2 separate regions of the Homo sapiens genome follow, and region 1 is linked to region 2. The links come from fine-mapping of genetic effects on gene expression. A gene starts in region 2. The other region holds a variant in brackets. All regions are shown on one strand. Distances are from middle to middle. Region 1 overlaps PDE1A (phosphodiesterase 1A). Region 2 holds the start of PPP1R1C (protein phosphatase 1 regulatory inhibitor subunit 1C).

Region 1 (5,000 bases), 320 kb after region 2:
TACATACACAGAAGTGGAATTGCTGGATTCTATTGTAATTCTATTTTTAGTTTTTGAGTAATCTCCATATAGTTTTTTGTTATCCCCATGTCATTTTTCACAGAAATAGGAAAAAATCCAAAAATTCATATGGAACCACACACACACACACACACACACAAAAGCAAGGCAATATTGAGCAAAAAGAACAAATCTGAAGACACCATACTACCTGATTCCAAACTATAATATAAATCTATAGTAATTAAAACAGCATGGGACTGGCATAAAAATAGACACATTTGCCAATGGAATAGAAGAAAGAACCAAGAAATGAACTCAAACATTTACAGTCAATTGATTTTTGATGAAAGTGCAAGAATACAATGGGAAGAAGAAAGTCTCTTCAATAAAAAGTATTGACAAACATGAAGAAAAAGAATGACATTGGATCCTTATCTCACTCTTTATAGAATAAACTCAAAATGGATTAAAGACTTAAATGTATGACCCGAAACTGTGAAACTACACTGAAAACACAGGGGTGACACTATACAACATGGGTCTGGGTATTGATTTTTTAGATATGACCCCAAAAGCTCATGCAACAAAAGCAAAAGTAGATAAACGGGATTACATCAAACTAAAAAGTTTCTGCACAGCAAAGCTACAATTAGCAGAGTGAAGAGAGAACCTACCAACTGGGAGAAATATTTACAAGCATATTATCTGTTAAGTGGTTAATATGTATAATATAAAAGGAAATTAAACAACTCAATAGCAAGAAAACAAATAACCTGATTAAAACATGGGCAAGGGGCCTGAATAGATATTTCTCAAAAGAAGACATACAAATTACCAACAGATATATGAAAAAATGCTCAACATTACTGCTATGGTTTGAATGTCTGTCTCCTCCCAAAGTCATTTTGAAATTTAATTATCATTATAACAGCATTAGAGGGTGGGACCTTTAAAAGGTGATTAAACCAGGAGAGCTCTGCCTTCATGAATGGATTAATGCTGTTCTCACAGGACTGTGTTTTTGTTGTGGGAGTGGGTTCCTTATAAAGGTGGAATGTGCTTTCACTGTCACCCTCTCTTGCCCTTCCACCATGTGATGATGCAGCAAGAGGTTCCTTGACCGATCCCAGCCTCTTGATTTTTGTCTTTTGAGCCTCCAAAGCTGTGAGTCAATGAATTTCTGTTCATTATAAATTACTCAGTCTGTGATATTCTGTTATAGCAGCACAAAACAGAGTAAGACAATCACTGGATCATTAGGAAAATGAAAGTTAAAACCAAAATGAGATATCGTCACAAGCCTGTCAGAATGGCTACTATAAAAACATGGAAACAGCTTGGGCAACATAGCAAGATCCCATCTCTACCAAAAAAAAATGCTTTGCTGGGAATCATGGCTTACACTTATAGTCCTAGCTACCTGGGAAACTGAGGTGGGGGGATGGCTTGAGACAGTGAGCTATGATTATGCCACTGAACTCTAGCATGAACAACAGATACAGACTGTCTAAAGACAAAAACAAAAACTAAAATTACAAAAGAGATGAAAGATGACAAGTTGTTGGTGAGGGTGTGGAGAAAAGAGAACCCTTGTACACTGCTGGTAGGACTGTAAATTAGTACAATCATTATGGAAAACTATATAGAGCTTCCTCAAGAAAACTAAATATAATCGTTTTTTAACAGTTAGCATTAAGACACTGACAGTTAAATGAAAATTGAATTTGAAAAATAATGTCCACTGGAGAAATTACTCTTTTTAATATGGCAGGCCTTGTTGACAACATTATTCTGCACAAGTTTAACAATTATAGCCTAAATCAGAACAAAATCACATCCAGCTTAGAGTGCTCAGGGAGAAATACCACACATAACATATATAATAACTAGGAAACATAAAAAGGTTGTTCTTTCAAGGATAATTCTATAATGAAATCAATTATGTAAGCAATATAAGAGAAATTGCTTTTATTTAACTCCAATAAAGATGGATGTGGTTTGTGCAAATCATCACTTTTAAATTGCTAAAAATATATTAAATATTGAAGTGCCAAATAAAATACATTGCTGTAAATCTCTTTTAAAGTCCGAAATGTAATTTAAAGTCATTGAGAAATTTATAAAGCAAATCTTGGTATAATAAGCAACTATAAATTAAGTAAATCCATATGTGGATCATGTTTTCTCCCCCTTCATTTTTAACCAGGCAGAATATTTTATAGGATAAAATAAAATAAAATGATCTAGAAATTAGTAAATTGTAATAAAATGTGATATTTGGTCAAGCATAGTTTTTTAAACTTTAAACAACAATGATGTAAAAATTTTTCACTTTCATCCAATTGTATGTTTTTATATCTTTTTTACAGATACAATGTGAGTTATAAAGTATGAAAGCCTTTGAAACAATCCAAATACTTTTTTATATTTAGTTGAAGGCAAAATATATATGCTTCTTTCCTTATAAAGTGCAGCGTGCAACCTATAAATCTCTAACATTGATTAAAATTCAGCTTAGTCAAAGCACACATACAAGCTGAGAATTCTGCTATGTTTATTTTTCCTTTTTAAATTGGAATCGTATTTATGCCCTTATCTTACCTATGTCCTTATTTCTACAACTTATCCTAAATGCCAGGTAAATATCTATTAGTAAGGTTATGAAATAGCATTAGTCTTGCTTTAAAAAAAAAAAAAGTGACAAAGAAGTTCACACAGGGAAAAAGCAGAGTTTGCAAATTAACCTAAGAAGAGCTTCA[T/C]GAAATTCAGGTTTTCCTTTTACGTAAAAAGTTGGATATGATTTTTGTTTATTTAAGAGACTCAATTGCATTAATTCTGAAAGGAGACAAGACTTATTAACTATCCCTTTATTTTACAGAACCATGTTTTTTCCTTCTAAAGTTGTAAACTTAAGTAAAGAAAAATCAGTGTGTTGTGTTTATATTGAGACAATAAATTGTGACAAAATAGAAAATAACATTGAGCATACCATCCTTATAATTCTACAATCATGGGTAATCACATACACAAAAATATACTTTATTGCACTTACACCTAACCAAAACTTAAGGCATCTCCATTTCTGCCAATAAAATGTGGCACCTAGAAAATAAAAATAAAATAAAACAAAACAAATAAGTACCCAAAGTGTCAGAAGAAACTTAGAAGGCCAGCTTCCTACTGATGAAGTCACAGTTACCTTCTAAGAGTATAAAGCATTAACTGTACCCATGATCTCTAATCAAAAAATATCAAAGATGAGAAAGTCTATTCAATTTGAATATTAAATCAGTAATTTCAGTCAAAATCACATGTGCAATTGTTTGAAGGGCGAGAAGAATGAATCAATGAAGAAAACCTTATTTTTCAGATATATGCAGTCAGGTAAAATATGCATGAAATACAACTGATGGAAAATATCAAAACCATAATTTTAAGAATGTTTCTGACACAAAGACATGGAGAAGTGAAAAAACTGCATGTGATTGATGTGAATAGCTCAAGTATGGTGGAAAAGTTGCCTTGGAACTCAATAAAATAGTTAAAATAGGAATCAAAGGCACCAAGAAGGTAATTTAAAAAGAGAGAGGAGAGAATGCCAATGCAATAAAAAACATCAAATTGGTTTTAGAAGTGACTAGTTGGCAGACAGCCCTAAGGGAAGAGACAGAGTTATCAGAGTAATTGAGGCAAGACACAAGGAACATACTAAAGATAAGCAGAAAATATAGATGAGGCAAAAATGAAATCTGCAGAAAGAAGAGACAAAACCAGGGCTTAATTTCATCTTTGAAATAAGAGTCTATCATTCACTTCAACATTGCACACATTATTGTTATTTTTATTAGCACAGATGGTACCATTATATGCTTAGCTATAACATAGCAGGAATCCAAAGAAGTGTTCTAAGAAATCCTGTGGTTTCCTTTCCTTTATAGTTAATAACTTATTAATATCTTCTCTTTAGAGGAGAACAAGATAGGCAAAGGAAATAACTATTCCTTCAGGGGGCTATGGAGGAAATAGCAAAGGTCAAAAGTTATGGAAAAACTTTGAACGTTGAAGGGAAATCATTGAAAAAGAAAGAAATGCTTTGCAATTGTAGCAACTTTTTTTTCAGATTAATACAATATGTGTCATATACTCATTTAGGGCTTTATAAACCTTGAGAGATAGTTTGACTATATTACACTATTCCATCCTCAGTATATCTTTGAGTGGTAGGCAAATATTATCCTAGTAAACGAGATGTATTTAACGCAAATTTATTCCCCCAAAGACAATATAATTGGCATTTAATGTCCTCCTTTAATTTCTGCCACATTCTCTTACAAATTTTACCAGCTTCCTAAAGCCAAACTGAACTCCTCACTGCTCCATGGCTGCACATCTCACTTTCACGTTGCCATACCTGTGGCAGAGACATTGTTATGTGCTCATCAAACTCATTTCCTTCTTCTAGGAACCCAGCTCAAACTATATCTCCCAGTGCTTTTTGCAGATAAACAAGGCCATGTGACCATGTTCTGGCCAATAGAGTGCAGGCAGAAATGATATACTCAACTTTTATGCCTGTCCTCCAAAATCTCCCACTCGATCTGCCACATAAGCGCTCTGCTTCCATATCTTTCTTCCCCTGTCTCCAGGCCAGATACAGAAGACACAGTGGAGGATGCCAAGACCTACACTCTCTAGGTTTGAGATCCTGCCTCATCCGTGGGAAGAATGCCTCCTGAATATTGAAGTGAACTGCCATGTGGGCAAGAAATATAACATTCCTCTGTTAAGCCACCAAAATGTTGGATTATTGAATAGCAGTAAGTTTTTCCTAACTCATATTATAACTTCACTCTTCTGCTTTTCATCTATTTAGATAGAAACTCTCTAACCAAGTGAACCTACTCCAGAAAAACTTTCCTGACCACTTCAGCATGTCCCAGTTTTCTCTACTATTAATCAGTTCTGCTTACTGTTTCATGTGCATAAATATATTTTTT
Region 2 (5,544 bases):
TGTGGAGAATCTGAAGGTCTCTTTCTAAGGAGGTGGAATTAGAGAATGAATATAATTTGGGTTAAAAAAGGGAGCGGGGAGGCAGGATGGCTTCCAGGGAGGTAGGGGAGGCCACAGAAAGACTGGTGGTAAGGTGAACTGCGGCAGCCTGTAGGAGGGTCTTGAGGAATCATGCAAAGTAGGGCAAGATAGATATTATAGTGTAAAATCAGGAAGGCCTAATGGCCTATTTTCCTAATGTTTTTCCATCTTTACTCCAGTATCACTTACTTTGAAGAGAGACTATAGTTGTTGCTTGTTCTAGAGGCCTTTTTAATCTTTAATGATTGAACCCATTACTTTTAAAGAGCAACGGAGAGGATTCCTTTTTCAGTCAGTTTGGTGGTACAACATCCAACTTTAGGCTCTCCTTTCTATATTGATATCTAATTTGCAATGATTGAGTATCTTGATTAATAGTATCCTAGTCATGCTACTTGCTTCTCTTTCATTCATATACCACGTCATCTTAAGATCTTTTACCATGGAATTGATGTGGTCAGAACCTCTAACCACTGCGGAGATTCTGTTGACTGCCACTGACTTCTCTACTGGCCTTATATTATAGTGGCCATCATGATGCTGTTGTGATTAAAAGCCCAAGCCCTATGCAAAATTGCCCGGGTTTGAAACTGGGCTTTGCCATATATTAGCTGGATGACCCCGGACAAATTATCTAAACTCTCTGACTCCCGATTACCTAATTTTAAATTGAGGATAGCAATAATATCTACCTCAAACAGTTGTCGGAATAAATTAATGCAGATAAAGCACTTAGAATAATTCCTGGCACATGGTATCATATAAGGGTTAATTATTACTCTTGTCTCTAATAGGGATAAAAAAATGTGCACTTAATATTTAGGAAAATTATACCCCCCATGCAAACTCTATATTAACATTTTTTAGATTATTTTACATTTAAGTTGCATTTTAAGTAGTTCTTCAAGTAAGAATTTAGCTTTAAAAGGACTTCAAATACCTTTTAACACAATCTCTCCTCTAGTGCCATAGCAAAAGGCCTGGTGTGGAGTAGACTATAGTATCTACTCAACAAATATTTGCTATGTGAATAAATAAAGTTGCAAAATACTAAACATTCAAAAGACATGTAGGTAGTTATTATGATAAATAGAGTTATGCTTCATTCTTTAAGAATACAGAGAGGTGAGTTTAAACCCAATGTGGAGAACAGTAAATCTACAAAGGCTTCCTAGAAGCAATGATACTTAACTGAATCTTAATGGACACACAGGAGTTGGCCTCATAAAAAACAAGAAGCTTAAAGGGTCTAGATAGCCCATTTACAATATTGTCTCTGATCAACCTATTCAAAATAGGGCAATTAGTTAATGAGAACCATTTTATTGGTATTTATACCAAACACATATATGAAATTTCACTTTATCACCTATTATTCTAAGTGGAATCAAATTATTCCAAGTAGATAGATATTCTTAGTGATTCTGGTTGAAAATGTGTATGTTGAAGCCTTTTGAAAAATCTGGCTGAAAGAAAAATAATAGCTATCTTTTATTGAGTGATTCCGTGCTGGCCTTGTAATGAGCTCTTTTCAGGAATTGAGTAATCTAAACCTCACAAGAAGAAAGTTCTCCTACTGCCCAAACTGATAAACTTGGTAAGTAGCAGAGCTAGAGCTTGAACTCAAGGTTGCCAAGTGCATGTTCTTAATTATTACATTATGTGAAGTTTTGTATTAACTCCTCACTAAAAATACTGTCTTGTCTTGCTTTCCTTTTATATAATTTGAAGATATATTCAAAGAAATAACTTCATTAATGATATCAATTTAGATTTTATTTCTGGAGACTTTTGTAAACTGTTACATAAAATGTAATTTATAAATTTCCCTTCGACACTACACGGATAAACTCATCACAAGATTTCTTGCTAGTCAGCACTGTTCTCCACTAAAAGTGCTTTCACATCCACATCTTTGCTTTTTCCCCTAGTGAATATAGAAAACTACTTCAATAATGCATATTCCTTTCTATATTCCTTCAACAGAATGTTGCCTATTTAAATCATTAAGATGGATTCCTAGTACAGAATCAAAATTTAAAAAATAAAAACTTCAATTGTAAATACCTGGAATCATAGTCGATGTCTAAATATATTAAGTACATCCAAAAACATATTTACAAATCTAGTATTCATCACATAATGCCTCTCAAGAAAGCAGAGATCTCAAGCAGTTTCATTTTCACACTTCCTTCATAAAAGTATTCGAATGCATGAAGGCCATCTGGCTATGTTACTACCTCCCCTTTAACATTAACTAATGTGGCAATCAGGCTAGTGTCCCACTGTTCCCTGACCACTAGCCAATATCAACCCTCTGAACATTACCCACTTCATGCTTTTTTCAAGTCCTTATCTTTACATACATTTCTACTGTTGACAACAAGCCATAATGTTGACTACCATTAGGTTTCTACTAATGTTTTCCAGTCATATTCTTCCAAGTCAGAGAATGTAACTGGCTCCACCAGGAAATAAAATAGAGGTCATTGAAGCAGCAGTGACTTCCAAGCTGTTTGCTAAATTTAGCAGCACAATACTTTCCACTCTAATGAAAACTGTGAACTGCAATTTTAGAATGTTGGAACAGGATGGGACTTTAAAGGTCATTGAGTCCAATCCCCTCATTTTTCTGATGGAAGTGTGGAGGCCTAGACGTAGCCAGTAATTTTCTGGAGGCCACAGAGCTTGTTAATTATGAAGATGGAACTCGAACTAAGATCTGCTCAGCCCTGCAGTAATGCTGCCCTCACTACACCACAGATGCTCTGCCTCCTAGGATGAGTTTAAACTAACCAGATCTTATAGCATAAACATAGCTGATATTATTGGTTGTGGCTTACCCTCCATGGCCATTCAACTGTTTCGTGGCTGAATGTGAAATAGCAAAGGTATCTGACTTATAAGTTGCTGAGAGAAATGATTCCATACCTAAACCCTGCCCCCAACTCTAAAAACTTCCTGCTTGATGTTCATCAATAATGAATGGCCCATCCCTGCAATACTCAGAGGGAGCTTACATTGCACTTTTGAGCAGCCGGTTAGTAATGTACAGTGGATAGAGCCTTTCTTTCAAATCCCAGGGCAGTGGGTCCTTCAAGGCTAGCATTGCATTTTCAATTAGCTGCTGAGTGAATGCTTGGCATGTGTATTAGTGAAGAGGCACACAATTAGCGTATTGTTCCTTTCTGTATTGTGCTGAGAGGATCCAAGGGATTGGTGGGGGAACAGGCAAGCCAGGCATCACCGTGGATGTTGAAGAAGGGGGTTACTCAAACCTCGGCATCTTCACTTGCTCGATCTGGAATTACAGCTATTTATTACGAAGCACTCTGTGTGGCTTAGTGGAGTGTGTCTGAGGAAACACATCCCGGACACCACTTAGGGTTAGTCTTTCTGAGCTCTTCACATCTCTGACTAATTATCATCATTACCATGGAGCCCAACAGTCCCAAAAAGATACAGTTTGCCGTGCCTGTATTCCAGAGTCAGATTGCACCTGAAGCAGCAGAGCAGGTATGTGAAATTGCATGGAGAACCATTCCTGTACATAAGGTAATATGAACATGCATTCTGGTTATTAATTGAAAGGTTCTTTACCTTTTGATTTTGCTAACTCTGACTTTCAAGATAATGTAAACAAGAAATAAGTTGGTTTTTACACATACTTGTATTTAAATTGCATTGGGAGAACTATTGTCTAAAATGTAACACTTCATTTGATACAAAATTAGCACCTCTGAGGGGAAAATGGCTCTGTAAGCAATTCAGATATGGATTCATAAATCTGTTCATTTTTGCTCATTAAAATAACAGTTTCAACATTTAGAGCAACTTTTAAAAATTATCAAAATGAGCAACATTTTATTTCATTTTTTATAAAATAAAATGATTGATTTAGCAATAAAATCATTAAATCCTGCAATAGTTTGAGACTATAGGCCTAATACTTTATTTTCATATGTTTTATTATTGTGGACACAAAACAATGATTATAAGTTTATATAATATATTACAGCTAGGATTTGTAGCTTTTTGTACAGTTTTAAAATCGTTTTGTTCAGACATTACAAACAGTGTTTTAACATTTCCTAGATTCTTTGTCCATGTCTAATATTGGTTTACATCTGTATCACCTTTCATATTCAGATTTACTTAGATTCTTGATGCAATGGCATCTCTTAGAACTGCAACTGTGAGGAGGCAAAAGCAAAGAAATTTATGAGGACATCAACCTAATCCATTCATTTCTTAAAACTTAAATTATTCTTGAATCCTTTTCCAAGTATTTGATATAAAGTCTTAAAAATAATTATTTAATCCGTGACTCATAGTGTTTCAGGATGTTTTGAAATCTGAGGTAGATGCACCTAGACTCAGGCCAGATAAATGTATCCTTGAACATGTGTCTATCCATGCTGAATGGGATGTTGCTTCTATCTTGGACAGGATGTCATTGATAAATTTTATTATCTATCCTACTGACACTTACTTTGGGTATTTACCCATAAATGAATATAATAAACAAATAAAGGATATTATATTCAAGGGATTCTGACAATACTATGCTCCTGTAACTCTTAAAATGAAAAAAAAAAACTTTAGAGTTTGTAATAAGTTGCATATTCTCATAAGATCCATATTTATTCTTCATTTGTTTATTTGTTCTAAATATTATACTAGAAAATAAAAAAGTTAACAAAATTAATTGAAATTCAAAGCTTATGCTGTTGATTTAACTCTGGTACCTGCTAGAAATAGGTTTCCAAGCTCTTCCTTATCCTGTTTAAAAATAAGGGTAATGAATCTTGAAAGCACCACCAATGTTATGAGGCTCCAAGCAAGCCACTAACATTATCAGGTCAACCCTGTACCTTCATTGTAAATTAATTTTCTGTTGTATCATTCAGTTGTATATAATTATTTCTTTTCCGTGGAAATGTAGCTTTTTGGTCAAAGAGGGTGATACTTCTATCAGACAGTTCAATTCTGTGGCTTTCTATTATTTCAAAATAAAATTAGTGAGCACCTTCCATGTGTCCTCCAGAAATTTGCTTTTGCATGTGGGGAAAAGATGAGGGTGAGACAGCTTTGCAAGCTGCAGAGTAACCTGGAGCAGTGTCTAATACTCACTGATATTAGCTGGGCTTTTGTCGTTCACAGATCAGGAAAAGAAGACCTACACCAGCATCACTTGTGATTCTCAATGAGCATAACCCCCCAGGTAAAGAAGCATGATGTGTTTCACACTGATGGAACAGAATGGAATTGTTTAAAGAACATCAAAGTACATGTCGTACTGAAAAGTTTCAATTTAGGATTTCACAGTTAGCAATACTCTAGAAAGCTAATCTATAAAATGGATCGTAAACAGAATCAGAAATAAATATTACAGGAATAATCTCAAGCCACAGCCTGTATTTCCTCTAGAATATCATAAGTGATGATATGCTATGAAATATT

The links. PIP is the estimated chance that this variant, and not a neighbour inherited with it, causes the effect.
Region 1: its variant is the best candidate, but not a certain one, in a credible set for the expression of PPP1R1C in lung (GTEx, PIP 0.68).

What each region holds. Positions count from the first base shown.
Region 1 is chr2:182,306,341-182,311,340 of GRCh38, forward strand. All of the region lies in intron 1 of PDE1A (phosphodiesterase 1A), which reads right to left. Among named protein-coding and RNA genes, the nearest start is that of PDE1A, 120 kb to the right of the region's middle. The variant T/C (reference allele first, on the strand shown) is at 2,763.
Region 2 is chr2:181,982,595-181,988,138 of GRCh38, forward strand. It overlaps PPP1R1C (protein phosphatase 1 regulatory inhibitor subunit 1C), which reads left to right and starts at 3,259. Exons shown (of 5, transcript NM_001080545.3): 1 at 3,259-3,597; 2 at 5,245-5,305. The coding sequence starts at 3,517.